Linked DNA regions of Homo sapiens: region 1 is linked to region 2. Evidence: fine-mapped expression QTL. Tissue or cell type: cerebellum. Region 2 holds a variant in brackets; the other region holds the start of a gene. All regions are shown on one strand. Distances are from middle to middle.

Region 1 (10,628 bases), 22 kb after region 2:
GCAGGTTTTTCCCAAATCATGCTGTTCTTGTGATAGTGAGTAAGTCTCACAAGATCTGATGGTTTTATAAAGGGCAGTTCCTCTGCACACACTCTCTTGCCTGCCACCATGTAAGACGTGTCTTTGCTCCTCCTTCACCTTCCTTCATGATTGTGAAGCCTCCCCAGCCATGTGGAACTGTAAGTCCATTAAACCTCTTTCCTTTATAAATTACCCAGTCTTGGGTATGTCTTTATTAGCAGTGTGAGAACGGACTAATACAGTGCCTTTGTCTTCATGTGACCATCTTCTTATAAGGATGCCAGTTCATATGGGATTAGGGCCCACTCTACTCCAGTCTGACCTCATCTTAACTACAAATAATCTGCCAGACTGTATTTCCATATGCAGTCACATTCAGAGGTACCAGAGGTTAAGACTCCAATATCTCTTTTTTGGTAGGGACACAATTCAACTTCTAACAAATGTCTAACTCATTACTTGTTCCCTACTATGCCATGGCCCATATTAGATGGCGTATAAGGGTGTAGTTTATTTAGGTTTCTAAATGTGTGTGATTTCACCTAATTTTAGAAGGAACAACTGAAAAAACCTGACTCCCAGGCCCAGACAAAGCTCCCATCATCCTCACACTCATATCCCAAAAAAGGCCCATGCTGCTGTCTCTAAGTCATCGGGGACACAGCCTGGCAAGCATAATCTTGACTGTTAAAAACTACCAAATGTGAAGTTTGGTAATTTTTAAATTTTTAAGAGGCTAAAAGCATGTGTGTGGTTTTGATCAGGAAGTTGTGGGTTTATGCCTAATCAAGAAACTTTCAACATTAAAAATTCAGAATCGGTGAGCACTAAAAAATCTATAGGCTGAGGCACGCAGGCTCACTCTGTCCCCTCTCCCATACCCCCAGGCCACTCTGCCCCACTGCCACTCTCAATGCCAGAAATATGCCCATCTCGAATCACTTCTCTTGTTCCCAGAACCCAGGCGGGCTCTCCGGGTCACCTTTTCTAGCCTTATACCCCAGGCTGGAAGGAAAGGTTCATATCTACAGCGAGAGAAAAGACTTGATTAAGGCAACTTCTGTTTGGCTTCCTGTTTATAAAGCTAGTTATTCATCTCAGAAAAGTCTTAAAGACCTGGGCTCTAATCCCAGCTTTCTGCTTTAAGAAGCTCTCTGACTCATTTAACCCATAAGGAGGGAAACGTCAGTGCTGGAGGTGGCAGGGTTGTCTGGGGAGCAGGGGGAGGAGAGCGTGTGTGTGGGAATTTGATGATCCCCAGCTAGCTTCACCAAGGCTGACGTCCTTGGCCATGCAGGAAGGGGTCAGAGCCTTCACAACAGGGCTTTCATGTGATAGCAACCAAGGATGTCCTTGGGCAAGACACTCAGGCTCTCAGTCTCGGCTCCCTCATCTATGAAACAGAACACTCACCAGCCCCCCTGCAAGGGGAGAGGTGAGGACTGAGATGATGACTATGAAAGCCCCAGCAAGGCTCCAGCACGTAGCAGGTGCTTGATGTGCATTGGGCACATGGTGATAAAGGAGCAGAGACTTCTTGGAGGGTTCAGCTCAGTCAAGTCAGAAAATGTCCCATTTCTCTCAAGACAAGTGCTTGGCTAAGCAGGGGCAGCATAACCCTGGGTCCCCAAAGGACAGATCCCTCCTCCCATTGACAGTGTTTCATTACGTGAACTCTGGACTCAGGTTTGGGGTGGGAAGCAGAATCAAGGGAGGCTGACCAGAAGTCCAAGTGTTGCAGTTAGGCCTGGGCTCCCCCAGCAGGGGCTGCAGGAGGCCAAGTCCAGGCAGCTGGGAAGAGGAGTCACCATACACACAGCCCACACTCCAGGGCCTCTGTCTACCTGAGAGGTAGAAATCATGACCTGACTTGGCAGATAAGGAAGCAAATGGTCCAGGAAGTTGGAAAGCCCGCCAGCCTGTGGCAATGGAAGGCTCTGCCCCAGCTTTACCAGATGCTCTGCTTCCTGCACCTCCCCACACTGCCTCAGTCCCTGTCCTGGAACCTCTGAGAGAACATAAATGTGCCCAGGGCCCAGAATGGTACCCGGATGTTGCAGAAAGAATGAATGCATGATGGAGACAAATACAAAAGCCAGCACTGGGCCAATGCAGCAGCACCCTGGAGAGGAGCAGCCCTGCTCCATGAGCTCCTTTCTTCTGGGTCCTCCAGAAGAGGACCTCTCCTTCCGTCTGGGTCCGCCAGACCCGTCTCTCTCTACCCTGCCCCACCCCAGTACTCCAGGGCTCAGTTCCTACATGGGACAAACTAGCTCTGGCCACCTGGCCCAGAACACATCGTGCTCTGGGTCTGGGACACCTTTCCCTCTGTCTCCTCTCAGGCTCCTTTCCCAGGCTCCTCTCAGAAGAGAGGAGCTTGGGGGCACCCAAGAAGACCTTCAGAGAACTGGCAGAAGGGAGGCCCCTGGCCAGACTCAGACTCCAGATTCTAAAACTCCTGTGGGAAAAGTCAGTAGGCCCAAGATGCTGAGTACCCAAGGACCACAGGCCATCAGGAGTGGGACTGCTCCTGGGGAGACCAGGGGAAGGAAGGGGAGGGGACTGCAGGTGGCATGAGTCAGAGAGCAAGGCAAGGCAGGGGGCCATGGTGAGGCAAGGCTGGACCACAGGAAGATGCTAAGCATGGGAGTGGGCTTGACTCAGGGCCCCAGGCAGCCTCTGGGTGACCTTCCAGCTTGGTGTGTGGTCTGTTCTGCAGCCTGACTGGCAGGTGGGCAGCCCAGCCACAGTGGGGAGGAGGAAGCACAAGGGGGTGGAAGTCAGGGCAGGAGGTGGACAGGAACAGCAAGCAGGAGGCATTAAAGGGCCACAGCAGCCCAGAAGCAGCCCTACCATGGGGGCTGGGGTTAAGGTTAGGGCAGACCCTTCAGAAATGCTGACGAATAAATGAATGAAGAAATACAGGCAAGAGGAGGGAACAACTTCAAGAAATAGCTTTGGCAGGAGTGAAGCGTGGGAACACAGGGCCACTCCAACAGTAAAGCCGGAGACAGCGTCACGGGGGGGTGTCTGACCACCTCCATCCATTCCACACAACTCTTCACAACCCACAGCTCTGCTACAGCTCTTCTCCTTGGTGACGCAACATCTTCGCCTCCTCTGTCCCTGCCACTGTCTGGTGGTCCAGCTTCAGAGTCTGCACAGCCCTTCCTCGGACAGTGCACGTCCCCTGGCCCATAGCCTTTGTGCAGAAGGCTGGCATTACCATCCCCACCTCGCCATCCTCAGCAGCCCCATGACCTGCCTTGGCCCAGCTGCTGGTTATGTCCCTCCTGGTCCACTGCCCCACCCCCTCCCTGACCTCGAGCCTGGGTCCCACCCCTCTGGGCCACCACCAGTCTTCCAAGGGCAAGCCCACCATCTCCACCCCTCAGTAGCCCCTTCAGAACAAAGTCCAAGCTCCTGGGCAAGGCCTGGCTGGCCCTTCACCGTCTGGGTCCTTCAGGCCCGTCTCTCTCCACCCTGCCCCATCTCAGTACTCCAGGGCTCAGTTCCCACGTGGCACAGAGTAGCTCTGACCACCTGGCCTGGGATACGTCATGCTCTGGGTCTGGAACACCTTCCCCTCTGTCTCCACGCCTGCTAAGAGGTCACCTACTCCTGGGAAGCCCTCCTTTTCTGACACTGCCTCCCTAAGGATGGGTGATCCAGGCTCCAGGCTTCCCTAGTTAATGCTGCCCAGGTCCTCCTTGTCCTTGGATTCAGGGTGCCAGGAGCACCCTGAGAAGCACCCAAAGGGCCAGCCACCCTCTCACCAACTCCTGCATCTCCCACACCACACGCCGCCGGCGGTAGCTAATACAAGTTTCCTTAAAGAGCTCATGAACTTGAAATCAATTCTCTACTTGGGTTACTGCCCCGGAGGCAGGCCAGGGGTCCCTCCCTGAGGCAGTCTGATGGAGGAGTAGGTGTGACCCCTGACCTTGCAAGGAAGAGCCTCTCCTGGATTCTCCACCCCTGCCCTGCCCTGCCCTCCCCACATGCCCCACCACCACGGGGTCCCCGCGGCTCTCACAGGGGCGGGCACCACCTCTGGGGTCTCCAGCTTTCTTACTTTACTCGAAGCGTGTTCACGACCACAGATTCCGCCACCCTCTCAACACGCCTGTCTGGTGGGTGTCAGGCAGTGTTTGTCCCCTTCATGCGTGAGGAGACGAAGGCTCAGAGCGTGAAGCCCGCTCCAAGGTCAGAGAGGGAGTCGCAGCAGAGGCGGGGTCGAGGCTGTGACTCGCGGTGGCCCCCGGTTCCCTCCCACCCCACCCCACGAACCGGCGTCTGGCCGCCCTGAAATGAATGACTCCGCCGCGTCCCGGCGCCGCGCTCCCAGCGCTCCCCTCCGGGACAGCGGCCAAGGTGACTCTGACCGCCTCCGGGTCGCGGGTCGGGCCTGGGCAGGGGTCCCTGGGCCAGGAGAGGGAGGCCGCTCCGCGCTTACCCTCCAAGGCCGCCTTCCAGCTGGTGCTGCCCTCGTAGCCCGACCCGGATCGCCGCAGCAGCCCCTCGGGGCCGCGGGCCTCAGCCTCTGCGGGCGAACGCGGCCTGGGGGCGGCGGGGGCGGGCGCGGGGCGCGCGGCGAGGGGCGGCGGCGGCCGGGCCCGCGAGGGGGGCTCCCGGGCCGGCTCCATGCGGGGCGCTCCGCCGCGCCGCGCCCGCGCTCCTGCACCGGGGTGCGGGGCCCAGCCCGACGCGCACTCGGCGCTCCGCGCGCCCTGCGGGCCCCCCAGGCCGGCCTCGGGTGGGCTAGGACCGCGGCGCTGGCAGGCCGGGGCTGAGCCCGGCTCCCCGCGCTGGAGCCTCTGCGCCGGGTGCCGCCGCGGTGCGCTCAGCGCCTGCCCCGCCGAGCCGCAGCCTCCACGCACAGCCGGGCTGGGGAGGAGCGCGAGGCGGCGCGCGGGAGCCGGGAGCCGTGGACCCGGGCGGGGCGGGGCAGGGGCGGAGAGGGAGGAGGCGCGGAGGAGCGGGGACAGCCGGCTCCCCGACCCCGCCACCTGGGCTGGAGGCTGGATGCTGTCGAGCTGGGAGCGCAGTCTTGGAGCCGGGAGACCTGGTTCTAACTCAGCTCCATCTCCCCAGCCGCCTGCTCACCATCTGTGAAAATGGGAATAAAGTTCGCGGGGACAGTGCAGGGAGGCTCAGGGAAGATGAGCGCCTTTCTTCCCGGCTGCCCTGGAGCCACAGCAGAGGGTGGTAGGGGCTGTGACTTGACCCCCAAACTCTTGATAAAGGAGAGAAACGTCCGAACGATGAGCACAGAGACAGTAGAGTCTAAAGGAGCAAGCGAAGTGACGTTGCAGATTCAATTAACATTTATTGAGCACCTACTAAGCGCCAGGGACTTTCACATATTATTAGCTGACAATGCCCCCAGGTGAGGCTGAGAAGTGGAATTTTGAGGTCAAGGACATTTCCGAAGGCGGCGCCAGGCAGGTGCGTGCTTGGCGGGTGTCTGACTCCCAGGCCAGGGCTCCCTCCGGAGCCTTCACTGGCCCCTTGCCTCAGCTGACCTCGCGTCGCCTGAAGCCCCACGCCTCCAGCCCTGATCCTCTTCCCCCTCCACCATTCTCAGCCCCAACCTCTGGTTCCTGTCTCCATCTTCAGTTCCTCATCCCCAGCTCCTCCTGCTCCCTCCCCCAAATCCAATAGGCCACTGACTCTTGTGAATTCTCCCTTTTAAAATATTTTTATTTTTATTTTTTGAGACAGGGTCTCGTTCTGTAGCCCAGGCTGGAGTGCAGTGTCACTACAGCCTCGGCCTCCCAGGCTCAAGCGATCCTCCCACCTGGGTCTCCCAAAGTTCTAGGATTGCAGGCGTGAGCTGCCGTGCCCGGCCCCTTTTTTTTTTTTTTTTTTTTTTTGAGACGGAGTCTCGCTCTGTCGCCCAGGCTGGAGTGCAGTGGCGGGATCTCGGCTCACTGCAAGCTCCGCCTCCCGGGTTCACGCCATTCTCCTGCCTCAGCCTCCCAAGTAGCTGGGACTACAGGCGCCCGCCACTACGCCCGGCTAATTTTTTTGTATTTTTAGTAGAGACGGGGTTTCACCGTTTTAGCCGGGATGGTCTCGATCTCCTGACCTCGTGATCCGCCCGCCTCGGCCTCCCAAAGTGCTGGGATTACAGGCGTGAGCCACCGCGCCCGGCCGCCCGGCCCCTTTTAAACTCTTAGTCTGCGCATTGCACTCCATCCCTCTAGCCACTGGCCAAGTACAAGCCAATGCCTTCTCTTGCCCGACCACAGCAGCAGCCTTCTAAGGGGTCTCCCATCCTCCACTCTTGCTCCCTCCTATCCAGCCCCTCCCCCTCCACACCCGCAGCATCTACCTAAAGTGCAAACTCACCACTCCTTCAGGGGTCCCTTTACCTGTGGATTAAGGCCATCTTTTTACAAGGCCTCAAGGTCCCTCATGGTCAAAGTCCTGCTCCTACCTAAGGCATCCTCTCCTCCCACCCCTTCTCTGCCAGCCCTAGACACACCTAACTATTCTGACTCTTTCCTCTGGGCCTTTGAACACTGTCTTCCTTCTGCCTGGAACACATCTCCTCCTTGGTCCTTCTAACCCCTCCTTGTAGCCCCCATGCACCCTAGTTTGCCTACCAAATTTCTGCTAATGCTTCTGATTGCACAGTCTCTAGGATACTGCATTCATTCAGAGTAGGTTCAACAAGACTACAACAGAAAACCCCAGTAAGAGTTTAACTAGAAAGAAGGTTTTTGTTTTTTGTTTTTTGGTTTTTTGTGTTTTTTTTACCTGAAAGAAGTCTAGAGGTGATCAGCCCAGGGCTGGATTGAGAGCTCCAAGATCATCAGGGACCCTAGCTCTTCCTCTCATTCTGCTCCCATCATCCTTAGTATATAGCCTACATCTTCAGGATTCCCTCATGGTCACACTATAGCCACTGTGGTTCCAGCCATCACACCTGCACACCAGATTACAGAAAGAGGAAGAACCAAGGGGAAAAGGGCATGCCTCTTGTTGAATCAGACTCCTTTAAAGAGTTTTTCTGGAACCCCCAGTGATTTCCACTTACCTTCCACTGGACACTTCTTTCTCAAGTAAGTTTGTGGAGTATAGTGGCAATTAGCTAAAGCCATTGCCACGCTCAATAATGCAGAGATTCTGTTAGGAAGAAGGGGGGAATGGAATATGTGCATGACCAGCAATCCCTGCCTCCTAAGCCTCCTGTGATCCCAGACTGTGGCACCTGTCCTTTGGGCCTTTGGAACACTCTCCACCTCTCTTCCCATAGCACTTGCCACATCCTACTGTCATTGTTTGATCCCCAACCAGATGGCCAGCTGTGGGGTGAGGGCAGAGGCACTGCTCTATCCCCCATTCCTAGGGCAGTGCCCCATTGGAACACCAGGCCCAAAGCTTCAGACTTCATGTAGGCACAAGGAAGCATCAAAGGTGTTTGAGCAGAGAAAGGTCATGATCACACCATGCTTTAGGAAAATTAACTTTGGGCTCTCCCTCTCCCTCCCCCTCCCCCTCCCCCTCCCTCTCCCTCTCCCCTCTTTCCACGGTCTCCCTCTGATGCCGAGCCGAAGCTGGACTGTGCTGCTGCCATCTCGGCTCACTGCAACCTCCCTGCCTGATTCTCCTGCCTCAGCCTGCCGAGTGCCTGCGATTGCAGGGGCGCGCCGCCACGCCTGACTGGTTTTCGTATTTTTTGGGTGGAGACAGGGTTTCGCTGTGTTGGCCGGGCTGGTCTCCAGCTCCTAACCGCGAGTGATCCGCCAGCCTCGGCCTCCCGAGGTGCCGGGATTGCAGACGGAGTCTCCTTCACTCAGTGCTCAATGGTGCCCAGGCTGGAGTGCAGTGGCGTGATCTCGGCTCGCTACAACATCCACCTCCCAGCCGCCTGCCTTGGCCTCCCAAAGTGCCGAGATTGCAGCCTCTGCCCGGCTGCCACCCCGTCTGGGAAGTGAGGAGCGTCTCTGACTGGCCGCCCATCATCTGGGATGTGAGGAGCCTCTCTGCCTGGCTGCCCAGTCTGGGAAGTGAGGAGCGTCTCTGCCTGGCCGCCCATCGTCTGGGATGTGAGGAGCCTCTCTGCCTGGCTGCCCAGTCTGGAAAGTGAGGAGTGCCTCTTCCCGGCCGCCATCCCATCTAGGAAGTGAGGAGCGTCTCTGCCCCGCCGCCCCGTCTGGGATGTGAGGAGCGCCTCTGCCCGGCCGCCCATCGTCTGAGATGTGGGGAGCGCCTCTGCCCTGTCGCCCCGTCCGGGATGTGAGGAGCGTCTCTCCCCGGCCGCCCCGTCTGAGAAGTGAGGAGACCCTCTGCCTGGCAACCGCCCTGTCTGAGAAGTGAGGAGCGTCTCCGCCCGGCAGCCACCCCGTCCGGGAGGGAGATGGGGGGGTCAGCCCCCCGCCCGGCCAGCCGCCCCGTCCCGGAGGGAGGTGGGGGGATCAGCCCCCCGCCCGGCCGCCGCCCCGTCCGGGAGGTGAGGGGCGCCTCTACCCGGCCGCCCCTACTGGGAAGTGAGGAGCCCCTCTGCCCGGCCACCACCCCGTCTGGGAGGTGTACCCAACAGCTCATTGAGAACGGGCCATGATGACAATGGCAGTTTTGTGGAATAGAAAGGTGGGAAAGGTGGGGAAAAGATTGAGAAATCGTGGTTGCCGGGCATGGTGGTGGGTGCCTGTAGTCCCAGCTACTCGGGAGGCTGAGGCAGGAGAATGGCATGAACCCGGGAGGCAGAGTTTGCAGTGAGCGGAGATCATGTCACTGCACTCCAGCCTGGGAGATAGAGCCAGATGGTTGCCGTGTCTGTGTAGAAAGAGGTAGACATGGGAGACTTTTCATTTTGTTCTGTACTAAGAAAAATTCTTCTGCCTTGGGATCCTGTTGATCTATGACCTTACCCCCAACCCTGTGCTCTCTGAAACATGTGCTGTGTCCACTCAGGGTTAAATGGATTAAGGGCGGTGCAAGATGTGCTTTGTTAAACAGATGCTTGAAGGCAGCATGCTCGTTAAGAGTCATCACCACTCCCTAATCTCAAGTACCCAGGGACACAAACACTGCGGAAGGCCGCAGGGTCCTCTGCCTAGGAAAACCAGAGAACTTTATTCACTTGTTTATCTGCTGACCTTCCCTCCACTATTGTCCTGTGACCCTGCCAAATCCCCCTCTGCGAGAAACACCCAAGAATGATCAATAAAAAAAAAAATAATAAAATAAAAAATAAAAAATAAAAAAAAGAAAATTAACTTTGGTACCAGGTACAAACCAGTCTGGGAGCAGATCAGCAAAGAAACTCTTGAAATAAACGGTTAAGATAAAAGGAGTAACAAAGGTGTAATACCAACGCATCGGCAGTGGCGCTGACCTTAGAAGGCTTCCGACAGTCAATCACAATACTTCAGGACCTATCAGAGGTAGGATCTAAGCCTCCCAGAGTCCCCGCACGCCCTTGTCAGCTTCCCTGCTCCTCTCCTGATGCTTCCTGGGATCACTTCCGAAATAAATTACTTGCACTTAAATCCTTGTGTCAGGGTATGTTTTGGGGGGAACCCAAAAGACAATGACCCTTACGGCTGTGAAAGGGTCCACTTCCTCAAGAAGGAGGTGCTCATGAAAATGGATAAAACCCATCAAGACCCCCCGCCCTAGGCCGGGCGCGGTGGCTCACGCCTGTAATCCCAACACTTTGGGAGGTTGAGGCAGGTGGATCACTTGGGATCAGGCGTTCAAGACCAGCCTGCCCAACGTTGCGAAACCCCGTCTCTACTAAAAATACAAAAAATTAGCCGGGCATGGTGGTGGGTGCCTGTAGTCCCAGCTACTCGGGAGGCTGAGGCAGGAGAATGGCATGAACCCGGGAGGCAGAGTTTGCAGTGAGCGGAGATCATGTCACTGCACTCCAGCCTGGGAGATAGAGCCAGATTCCATCAAAACAAAACAAAACAAAACAAAAACAAAAACAAACAAACAAAAAAACCTGCCCTCTATCCCTGAGCGACTGTAGAGTTTCTAAGACGGCCCTTCCTTGAGCTCAGGCGACGAAGGCTGCACCAGCTGTACTCCCAGGAGCAAGCAGGGGACATACTGCTTACCTTTCAGAACCCAGTTTTGTCCCACGAGGGTGTAGCAAGTAGTAAACCCTCCGCTTTCAAACCCCTTCAGATTCCTAGACTCTTATAACGGACACCTAAAATTCCCCAGGGAACCCCTGCATGTGAACCTCCATGTCACATGCTGTCAAGGAGGTCCAACAGGAAACTTGATCAGATTTAGAGTGAGCTTAAGTAGAGGTCTGGGAAGATTTCAAATGCAGCCTGGCCAGCACCAGTCTTCCCTTGGTCTTCAGGGCAGGGTTTTTTTTTTTATTTATTTACTACTTTCTAACAAAGTGCATGTCCCCATCTCTGAATGTCTCTGTCCTGCCTTCCCCTGTGTCTCAGGATACTGACTCCGTCTCCTTTTCTTAGAGTTATGGAATAGGTGTGACTCCTGGCCCACAGATTCAGAGGTTGAAAAAATAATGACATGTACTTTCCTTCTTTTAAGTCAACTGAATTGTAACTTCAGGTCACCATGCCATTATGGGGGTAGAAAATTCCATCTGGCTGGGCGCAGTGGCTCAT
Region 2 (10,628 bases):
ACCCCCCATAGATACCAAAATTTGCAGATCCTCAATTCTCTTATATAAAATGACATATGACCTACGCATATCCTCTCGTACACTTTAAATAATCTCTGGATTACTTATAATACCTAATACAATGTAAATACTATGCAAATAATTGTGGGTTTTTTTGTTTTTTTTTTTTTTGAGACAGAGTCTCACTCTGTGGCGTGCAGTGGCGCGATCTTGGCTCACTGCAGCCTCCACCTCCCGGGTTCAAGCAACTCTCCTGCCTCAGCCTCCCAAGGAGCTGGGGTTACAGGCGTGTGCTACCATGCCCAGGTAATTTTCATATTTTTAGTAGAGACAGGGTCTCACCATGTTGCCCAGGCTCGTCTCGAACTCCTGACCTCAGGTGATCCACCTGTCTTGGCCTCCCAAAGTGCTAGGATTACAGGCATGAGCCACTGCAAATAATTGCTATATTATGTTCTTTTATTGTTTGTTTTTCAAATAGTTTCAATCCATGGTTGGTTGAACCCGCGGATGCAGAACCCACAGATGTGAAGGGCCAGCCTCTGAAATTTGGGTATTGTTACAGAAGCTAGCACAATGCTTTGCACAATACCTAGTCCATAAGAAGCTCTTAATTAATGTTGTTATTGTTATTCCAATTTATTATTACTCTTATTCCAGGTATTGTTGTTCCAATTTTGTCTTCGTTGTATATTTATCTGCTGAAAAGGAGTCTGTCCTCTAAACCACAGAACCCTAATAGATATCCTAAGTGGCTGGTCATCTCATTTATCTTTTTCTCAAAACCATCTGCAAGTTTCCTACTTTGTGGGCAGCTGAATTGGAAATGTGGGTTTCTAGGATCACAGACAGCATGGTGTAAAGAAAAGAGGATTTGAACCCGGAGGCAAGATCAGTTTAATTCAACACACATTTATGGAGCACCTTCTGTATGTACCAGGTGCTAGGGCTACAAAGGAGTGTGAGACTGGGTCCCTGCTCTCTAGGAGCTCACACCTCTGCATGAATGATGGACTAGTAAACAATTGAACAAAGCATGACACGTGCAATAATGAATATAAAGCAGAACAGGAGAGCCACACGGCCTGAGTGACATGACCTAGGATGTGTTACTTAACTGCTCTGGGCCTCATGGATAGTGAGATGGGGTAGATCATTTCTAGCCCCTGAAATATTAACATTTACAATTCTCAAAGCCCTGTGAAGTCAGCAGGGCAATTATTATTCCAGCCTTATAGACAGATGTAAAGCTTGAGGTCAGAGAGGTTTCATGTGGCGGCCTGAGCTACACAACTGCTTGTTGGTAGAACCAGACCCAGATTCAGGCAGGCCTTGGGAGCTGTATATAGTGCGTCCACTCCAGGCTGCCGTGGCAGACAGCGGGGAATCTCTGATGGGTGTGGCAAGGGGCTTTCTTGTTGCTCCCAATTTGAATCCCATACTTACAGTTTGGAGCTGGCCACAGACCAAGAGGAAACAGGCAGATACCCCTCCACCTGCTTCTGGTGCAAGCACTCAGCAGAGAGTGGGCATTTCTGAAAACCAGGTCACCTCTCACAGAACAATACAGTGATATCATATGGACAGGATTTTCCCAGTGATCGCAGGACCCTTCAAAACCAACCCCGGTCACTGATGACAACATTCCCGGGCCTGGCTTCCTCTTCCAGCTGTCTCCTCATCACTGGGCTTAGTGTGTGATGTGAAGGACACTCGGGAGATAGAGGCAGCTTTCCCTCAGCACCCCTGGACTTTTGGGCCACCCCACCCTCAACCCATCCAGCATGTGCACACTTAGGGAATGTGAATGAGCTCATTTAACATAAGCAAGGAGCTCACATTGGCTGTGCCTCTGAAATCATGCCACCAAAACCAAAAAGACAAGGCTCTGGACAATAGCCAGCCATCACTACCTCCCACCATAGCAAATAGTTCACAGATGACACTACAGGCAATCTTATTATCATATACAGCAATTTCTGAGCATCTGCTATGTGTACTAAAAAGAGACCAAAAACACACAGTCCCTGCCATCTAGGGGCCACTATGGAGAGGCTTATAATCAGATGACAGGAATGGTCAGATGACAGGAATGGTCAGATGACACAAAGAGAAGAGTCACAAGATGACAAGGCCACACAGACACAGGGCCATGTAAGAGGCTCAGTCTTAAGAGGCAGAGACTTTGGGCAAAGGGAGTGGTCACGAGTGCTGTTGCTGCCAGGGAGGCATCCCAGGGAGGCTGGAGCTGGGCCTTAAAGGAAGAGAAGGACAGAAGTCATTCTTCACATCACCCACTCTTCCATGGGTAATTCACTGAATATCGTGTGATGAAGATAAAGTCATCCAGAAAAAGAATTGCCCGTGGGCATGCAGATGTCCTTTCCCAGGGTGGCCCCTTCTCAGCCACTGGCACACCCACCAGTGCCGCTCCATCCTCAGGGCTGGCCAGCACAGCAGGCAGCTCACCTGCCACACATGCAGCTCACCTGACACATGCAGCTCACCTGCCATACATGCAGCTTTCCGAGGTCCCTGTGGGGATGGGTCTGGGTTCAAATCCTGGCTTTGCCACCACCCAACAAATCCTGGCTTTGCCACCTCCCAACTGTATACTATGGGGCAAGTCCCATAGCTGCTGAGCTGGGCTGATCATGCTGACCTGGCAGGGCTATGAGGAAGATGCATACAATACTAGTTAATCCTCTAGGACAGCACCAAATGCTACCACCCAGTAAAGCTTCTTAAAAAGTCTTTCCTAGGGCCGGGAGCAGTGGCTTATGCCTGTAATCCTAGCACTTTGGGAGGCCAAGGCAGGCAGATCACCTGAAGTCAGGAGTTTGAGACCAGCCTGGCCAACATGGCAAAACCCCATCTCTACTAAAAACACAAAAATTACCCAGGCATGGTGGCACGTGCCTGTAATCCCAGCTACTCAGGAGGCTGAGGAAGGAGAATCACTTGAACTCGAGAGGCAGAGGTTGCAGTGAGCTGAGATCGCACCACTGCACTCCAGCCTGGGCAACAAAGCAAGACTCCCTTTCAAAAAAAATAAATAATAGGCCAGGCGCGGTGGCTCATGCCTGTTATCCCAGCACTTTGGGAGGACAAGGCGGGCAGATTAAGAGGTCAAGAGTTCGAGACTAGCCTAACCAACATGGTGAAACCCTGTCTCTACTAAAAATACAAAAAATTAGCTGGGCGTGGTGGTGTACGCCTGTAATCTCAGTTACTTGGGAGGCTGAGGCAGGAGAATTGCTGGAACCTGGGAGGCGGAGGTTGCAGTGAGCCGAGATCACGCCACTGCACTCCAGCCTGGGTGACAGCGAGACTCCGTCTCAGATAATAATAATAATAATAAATAATAAATAAAATTAAATAAAAAAAAAAGTCTCTCCTGGGTATCCTCCATCACAAAGTACCTCTGTGCGTGGCTGTGTGTGTGCTCCGGCTTCTACTAGCCCCCTGCCTACTGGGATTAGGGCTCAAATTTGCCTAGGGAGCACCTTCCCCAGCTCTGAGCTCCAAGGCCAGTCACCCCAAAAAGGAAAAATCTGCCCCAGGGGATAAGGAGCGAGACTTGGGGAGATGCGGTCCTACAGACCCTCCTTGCTGAAGGAGACATGAGCTCTGGGGATCAGAAACAAGTAGCATGTCTGCCCTCAGTGCTGCTGCCTCTAGCTGCTGAGAACACAGCACGGGGTGCCAAGGCCACGCAAACTGAGCCTGTTGTTCAGCCCACAAAGGGGACAGGGGTGGCCTGGCTGGTCTGTAACCCTTGGAAGGATTTCTGACATTTCTGAAGTTAGGTGTACAGGGTTTTGTTTTTATCTTGTACTTCCTTCATTGGTAGAAAAGAGTTTGAAAAAATCTTTCTTTTTTTTTTTTAAGACAGAGTCTCCCTCTGTCGCCCAGGCTGGAGTGCAGTGGTGCGATCTCGGCTCACTGCAACCTCCGTGTCCCAGGTTCAAGCAATTCTCTGCCTCAGCCTCTTGAGTAGCTGGGATTACAGGCGCCCGCCACCATGCCCAGCTAATTTTTGTATTTTTAGTAGAGACGGGGTTTCACCATGTTGGTCAGGCTGGTCTCAAACTCCTGACCTCATGATCCACCTGCCTTGGCCTCCCAAAGTGCTGGGATTACAGGCATGAGCCACTGCACCCGGCCTGAACATGGATGACCCTGGATCAGGGCACATGCTCTGCCAAACTGATTTAGAATTGTTGCATGGTCCCAGGACAAACCTAAAGTTAAAAGAGCTTATTTGCCACTAGGCTTTAAAAGCTTCAGGCAGGAGGCTTTGGATCATTTAATAAAAAATAAAACCCAGGTCAGACGCAGTGGCTCACATCTGTAATCCCAGCACCTTGGGAGGCCGAGGCAGGCAGATCACCTGAGGTCAGGAGTTCAAGACCAGCCTGGCCAACATGGTGAAACCCTGTCTCTACTAAAAATACAAAAATTAGCCAGGCATGGTGGCACTCACCTGTAGTCCCAGCTACTCGGGAGGCTGAGGCAGGAGAATCACTTGAACCCAGGAGGCAGAGGTTGCAGTGAGCCAAGATTGCGCCACTGCACTCCAGCCTGGGCGACAGAGTGAGAGTCTTTCTCAGAAAAATAAATAAATAAATAATAAATAAAATAAAACCCGAACGGCACAGGTTACCCATTCTGTGTCCTCTCACATTGCTTCCCTGAACTCCCAGGGCAGGAGGAAAGCAGGGCTCTGAAGCCCTCGGCCACGTGGTTCTCAGGACTCTGGCAAGGTAGTTTACTCACCTTTGGAAGTGTGCCCTGCCTCGGGCATCTCTGCAAGAATTAAGGGAGCTGCCATATGTAAAGCAAAAAGTACTGAGGCTTTTGAACCTCACTGTCTTTGAGGGGTGGATACTGGTGAGAAACACGGGCTTATATGTAACTGAGAACAGGTGGGAGTGTGGGACTCCCACCGGAGAAGTGGCAGCAGCTGACCACTTCCTCGCCCCTCAGCCCCTCACAGCCACCCCTACAGGCCCACCATCACCAGCTGAATTCCCTTAACTACTTTATTGTATACTCAGGTGCCCCACTGGCTTCCCAGTGACAGCAAAATATAAAACCATAAACCACCTGTATTTTATGAAATATCTGGAAAGCACGCGGAAAATGTAACAAACCCAAGTTGGTGGTTTTGTCTGAAGACTGTAAAACCAGTACTAGGACTGTGCAGAGCACAGCAGGACCC[G/A]GTTTCTCTGAGCTATTTTCTGAAAATGGGCCAGGACCCAAATGCACACACTGGGCTCCCAGGCAGGCCACCCACATCTCATCTGCCCGGGGTTATCAGGAGGCTGGAGAGGCCTGGGCTCCACAGCTGGAGCCTCAAGTGTGTGTGGAGGAGAGCATGGAGCCCCCACAGACCCGAGGGCATTGCCTGCCAACCCCATGCCCCGACTGCTTCCTCCCCAGGCAGCTCAAGGGGGATAGGAAGAGGCCATAAGACTTTCACAAACTCTTTTCCAGCCCAATGTGAACACCACCTAATTTTCATGTTCACTTCATTCCATCCTGCCCCGATGCAGAATAAACCATCCCTTGACTATGTTCCAGAATGTTCTAGCACTTTCTGAACTGTTTCCTCTGCTCCTTGCGTGCTTCTTGGGGGATTAAGGCCAGAGATCCCCCATGCCTGGTGTGGTGTCTGGCTTGCGGTAGGTGTGAATAAACGTTTGTCATCTTGAGGTGACTAGCAATGAAGGAGCTGGAACAGCCACGTAAGAATACCTTAAAGGCTTAGCAACATGAAACGATGTCCTGAGGCCAGAAGGTGCTTTTTTTTCATCCTCACACACCGCTATCTGCTGCACTAGAGCAGGTGCATTTTGTGGTAGCCCCCACAGACTGGCACCCAGAGATGTGCCCCTCTCTGCCCCTCCCCGAGCTCTGACTCTGGAACAAATGGCGGCAGACTTCTCTGGACATGAGATATTAACTCTTTATTCCGTTAGTGACCAATACAACAGCACCACGGACACAGCAGGGGCCCTGCCTGAGAACCCAGGCAAGGCAAAGAAGGGGGATGCAGGGGACCTCTGGGGCCCGGGGCGGGGCTGGCCCGGCCTAGGTGAGGGGGAAGCTTTCCCAGCCTACCTCCGCCGGCAGCCAGGAGAGAAACCAGTGGGGAAGCGGGGCTGCTGGGTGAACAGTCAAACCACCTGTCAATGCCCCTCCTTCCCCAGAGCACCAGGGCTGCAGTGAGGAGAGGGCTTCTAGGGGGCCGGAGAGAGATCTGTGGGGTGGCTCAGGATGGACACTGAGCTTCAGAAGGGACAGCGTCTGTGCGTGCGTGTACCTATGCATGTGTGTGTGTGTAGGTGGGCAGATGCCTACACTACCTAGCATATGGGATTTAACTGCTGAGCCACACGACCTGCCTGCAGACAAAGGAGGCCAGGAACCAGGGACTCAGAGCGCCAGGGCCTGGGAGAGGGGCCTGGGGCGGAGGCCACGCACCCACCGCTTCGCCTTGCAGAGGGCAGGCGGCTCCGCTGGAAGCAGGTCTTGAGCAGACACCAGACACCTCCCACAGGCCTAGGGGCGGGGCCACCTCTGGCCCCACCCACCTCAAGTATAGGCCATCTTGCTGCACACCCAGGGCCGGGTCATCAGACACTCCGTCGACACCAGCCTGGTGGGCTCCACGAAGACACACTCCCCTGGACCTGCGATGGTGAACCTGTGGCCAGGAGAGAAGACCAGGCGTTTATGATCTGGAACATTCAGCCCAAAACCCAGTGGCAGGGGAGGCCATGGAGGCCCTGTGACCTATCCCTCCCTCACTTCATCACTGGAGCTGCCTTCTAGGACATTTGGGCCAACAGACTGTTCTAGCTTGGCATCCCATTGTCTCCCTACTCTGTGCACCGTAGCTCCAGCCACCCTGGCACGCTGCTGAGACATTTCCTGGACACACATGCACTTCCCCATTCTCAATGTCCTTGCAGGGTCGGCTCACATGTCCCAGGCTCCATGGCACCCAGTTCAGGGCCACTCTCTGCCCACTCTACTTCCCCACAGTCCCCTGCCTGCTCTGTGGGGCACTCCCATAGCCCCCTGGGGCCTCTACCTGTCTGTCCACACAGGTCCCCAAAGCAGCCATCTCCTGAGCAGTGAGCTCTGTGCGCTCTCATCTTGGCTCCCTGCAGTGCGCAGAGTTGAGCACACAGGAGGAGCTCTGCAGAGCTGGCTGAAGTCAGCTACCCCTCACAGGTTAGGGGTAGGCTGCAATGACCCCAATATGGGCTAACTGAGGCTGGGTTGCACAGGAACTCATTGACATCACACACAGATGGGTGTGGTGGGAGGATTCCCCCCTACCTCAAATCACCCCTTTCCAGCCTCAGAGGTTTCTTCTTAGCCTTAGTTGTTCACCCGGACCTCCGATCCCTGCCAAGGCTGGAGGTAGACCCTCACAACAGAGGGCATTGGAAGGACCCCAAGAAGGAGTGCAAGGGAAAGGACCTCTGCAGTGTCTGAGAAATGTGGCCAACGGCCCCTTGGTTGTCAGGTGGTCAGCACGCCACGGACCCCAGCCTGCAGGGCTCTGAGAGCAAGAAGCTTCCAGAAAAGCAGGGAGAGGGGTGCAAAGCGCAAGACCTCCTCAGCCACTCTGAGAGAGCAGACCTGAGAGGGGGACAGGAAAGGGGGTGAGATAAGGAAGGGGCACTGAGGCCAGAGTAAGGGCAAAAATGAAGAGTGCTTGAGATAAGGAAAAGGAGGAGGAGGGGAAGCATCATGAATGCCCCTGCCTCCAGGGCTGCCATGGGCGTGACTGCCTAAGCCATCCTCAGGTGGGAGGGCAGCTGATGGCCACCTCTGGCAACCAGGAGGATCCCAGGGTCTCAGATGCCCTTCTGCTTTAGCCCCTGCCTTGGGGACGTTCACGCATCATCATCATCATCGGGTTAGGAGCTGTGTTCCCCACCCCACCCCATGCCCTCCGGCTGGCACCTCAGAGCCTATTCCTCCAGCCACAGGGTCTGTTCTGCGGGTCCCACTTCCCTCTGCACACTTCCCTGCATTTCTCTCGGCCTAGACCACTCCTTTCCCCACGCCCCACACAGTCACCACTGTACTGCCACAGCCACACATCTGCCACCCACTCCGCCCATGACCATCACCCCCACACCACACACCAGACCTGGCATCACACACTCACATCCACTCCACTTGAGTCTTACAAAACCGCCACGGCACACGCCACCACCTCAGCAGCGCTCCGTCCATCAAGAGATGCGTTCGCCAGTAAAATGTGACCTAGAACACTCCCAGGTGCCTGCCTTCAGATCCCCTTTCTTCCACAGCTACAGTGCTTAGGTGGCACGAGGCTGCCCGGGACAGAGGCGCATCTCCCATCCTCCCTTGCGGCCAGGTGCGGCCATGTGACTAAGTTCTGGCCAATGGGGTGAGGCCATCCAGGGCCCTCCCTCCCATTCTCTGTCCCGTTCTGGCTGAATGGGATGTGGTTGCGCCACACTGAGTGGAGCCGACAAGCGCCAGGCTGCACAGATCAGGGACTCAAGGGTGGAGAGACCCTGGGCCGGACACCGCGAAGCTCTGATGGCTTTGCAGGGCAGAGCCACCAAGCCAGGCTGGACTTTTATGAGAGAGGGAGAAGTACAGACATTTTCATGGCTGGGTCTCTGGCGCACACTGCTGGACCCCGAGACTAGTATCTCTAGCTAGCACAAAACAAGGGCTTCTCTCTTCGGGAGTTGTGTCCAGGGGGTGAGTCAGGCCTTTCTCAGTCTAAGCTCGGTAGCCAGAAGATGAAGCCTCAGCTCACGTGTCCGGATCAAACGGGTCCCCGTTGACCCAGTGGAATTCGTCCCCAACTCTGCGTAGTCCAATCCAGGGCTCCCTCCGCGTGAACTTGAACATAAATTCCTGCACCGAGGAAAAAGGGACACCTCAGGGTCAGATGCGGTCTCCTGACTGCTGTCACATCCCAAGACAAACCTCAGCTTGGAAGATACTGGCTCTCGGGATGTACAGACGCCAGGAGAGTGACTGTTGTCTCGCTGAATCCCGCAAGTAAGGAGCTAGGTTACAGGATCCTCTGCAGTCACGCTGCCAGAATTCGGCTCCAAGCTGCTGGCTGACCTCACAGCAGTTGCCTCCGACAGCTTGAAAGGGACCCTGGCTGTGTGTGCATGCCACTGGCCAGGAAGGCTGTACAGGGCTTGTCCTCCTGGCTCAGCAGGACAGCATTCCTGATTTGCAGGAAGCTTGGGGATTGCCCACTGGTTGGATGATCTGGGACAAATCTCAATGCTCAGGTTGGTTGTCCTACCTGCAAATTTCTGGGACTTTCCCTGCAGACTGGGGATATCATACTGTGTATCAAAGGCAAACAGAAGTGATTTTTAGATTATCTTCTATTTTGGTTAATACCACTGTTAACCTCAAAATCCAAAATGGCCAATAGACTCCATTAATTGTGTTTCTTTCACGTTTCTGTTGCTAAGACTGTTTTGGATGTTAAATGAGAGACCGTGTCCTGATTTGGATCTTTAGAAAATGACAATGTGTTTTCACATTTCACAATGCATTTATAATTTGTAATTCTTTTTTTTTTTCCTTAAGAGACAAGTCTTGTGGCTGGGCACGGTAGCTCACACCTGTAATACCAGCACTTTGGGAGGCCTAGGCGGGTGGATCACTTGAAGCCAGGAGTTCGAGACCAGCCTGGCCAACATGGTGAAACCCTGTCTCTACTAAAAATACAAAAAGTAGCCAGGCATGGTGGTGCACAGCTGCAGTCCCAGCGACTCAGGAGGATGAGGTACGAGAATCATTTGAACCCAGGAGGCAGAGGCTGCAGTGAGCCGAGATTGCACCATTGTACTCCAGCCAGGGCGACAGAGTGAGACTGTCTCAAAAAAAAAGAGAGACAAAGTCTTGCTATGTTACCCAGGCTGGCCTCGAACTCCTGTGATCCTCCTGCCTCAGCCCCCTAAGTAGCTGGGACTACAGGCACACTCCACCATGCCCAGCTAATTTTCTTTTTACTTTTTGTAGAGCTAGGGTCTCACTATGTTGCCCAGACTAGCCCCCAACTCCTGGGCTCAAGTGATCCTCCTGCCTCAGCCTCCTGAGTAGCTGGTACTAGAGGTGGATACCACATCACCAGCTTTATAATGTGTAATTCTTCTGGTTTATAATACTAAGTGACCTCAACCAGTGGGCCTTGGATTGAAATAGGTGGCCTTGACAATGGAAGTGGAAACTGGAGCCACTCATTGACCTGCTCAGACTGTGAGGTCTGCCTGCACCCCAAGTGGTTATGCAGCAGGTGGGCGGCTTTGGAGACGTGTCACAGGGAACACTGCATCCTTTACTGTGTGGCTGTCCCCTAGAGTCAAGGTTGGGGGCCCTGAGGGTCCCTTCCCCCAACCCCCTTCACCTTGGCACACTCACCAGCTCCTTCTGGCTCTGAATCACAGCCAGCACCGCCTCGTGGGTGTGGCAGTACTGCCTGCCTGTGTTCCAGTCTCTGGGTTCCTCGGAAAAGAAGTAGCACTTCCTTCCGTAGAGCAGCCAGTCCTCCGGGCAGGGCGCTTCGCACTTGATGCAGCCCTTGGAAGCTGCAG

Alleles and levels. Alleles are on the strand shown, and positions count from the first base shown. SD is a standard deviation of normalised expression in the study named.
For the expression in cerebellum of the gene that starts at base 4,910 in region 1, allele A in region 2 goes with a higher level than allele G (small effect, 0.37 SD a copy in GTEx).

What was found. PIP is the estimated chance that this variant, and not a neighbour inherited with it, causes the effect.
Region 1: CLEC2L starts here. The variant in region 2 is fine-mapped to the expression of CLEC2L in cerebellum (GTEx, PIP above 0.99).

What each region holds. Positions count from the first base shown.
Region 1 is chr7:139,517,967-139,528,594 of GRCh38, reverse strand. CLEC2L (C-type lectin domain family 2 member L) reads right to left here and starts at 4,910. Exons shown (of 5, transcript NM_001080511.4): 1 at 4,478-4,910. The coding sequence starts at 4,667.
Region 2 is chr7:139,540,315-139,550,942 of GRCh38, reverse strand. It overlaps CLEC2L (C-type lectin domain family 2 member L), which reads right to left. Exons shown (of 5, transcript NM_001080511.4): 3 at 10,456-10,622; 4 at 8,822-8,922; 5 at 5,958-6,712. The coding sequence ends at 6,601. Among named protein-coding and RNA genes, the nearest start is that of CLEC2L, 22 kb to the right of the region's middle. RefSeq lists enhancers at 6,016-6,617, 8,535-9,308. The variant G/A (reference allele first, on the strand shown) is at 5,225.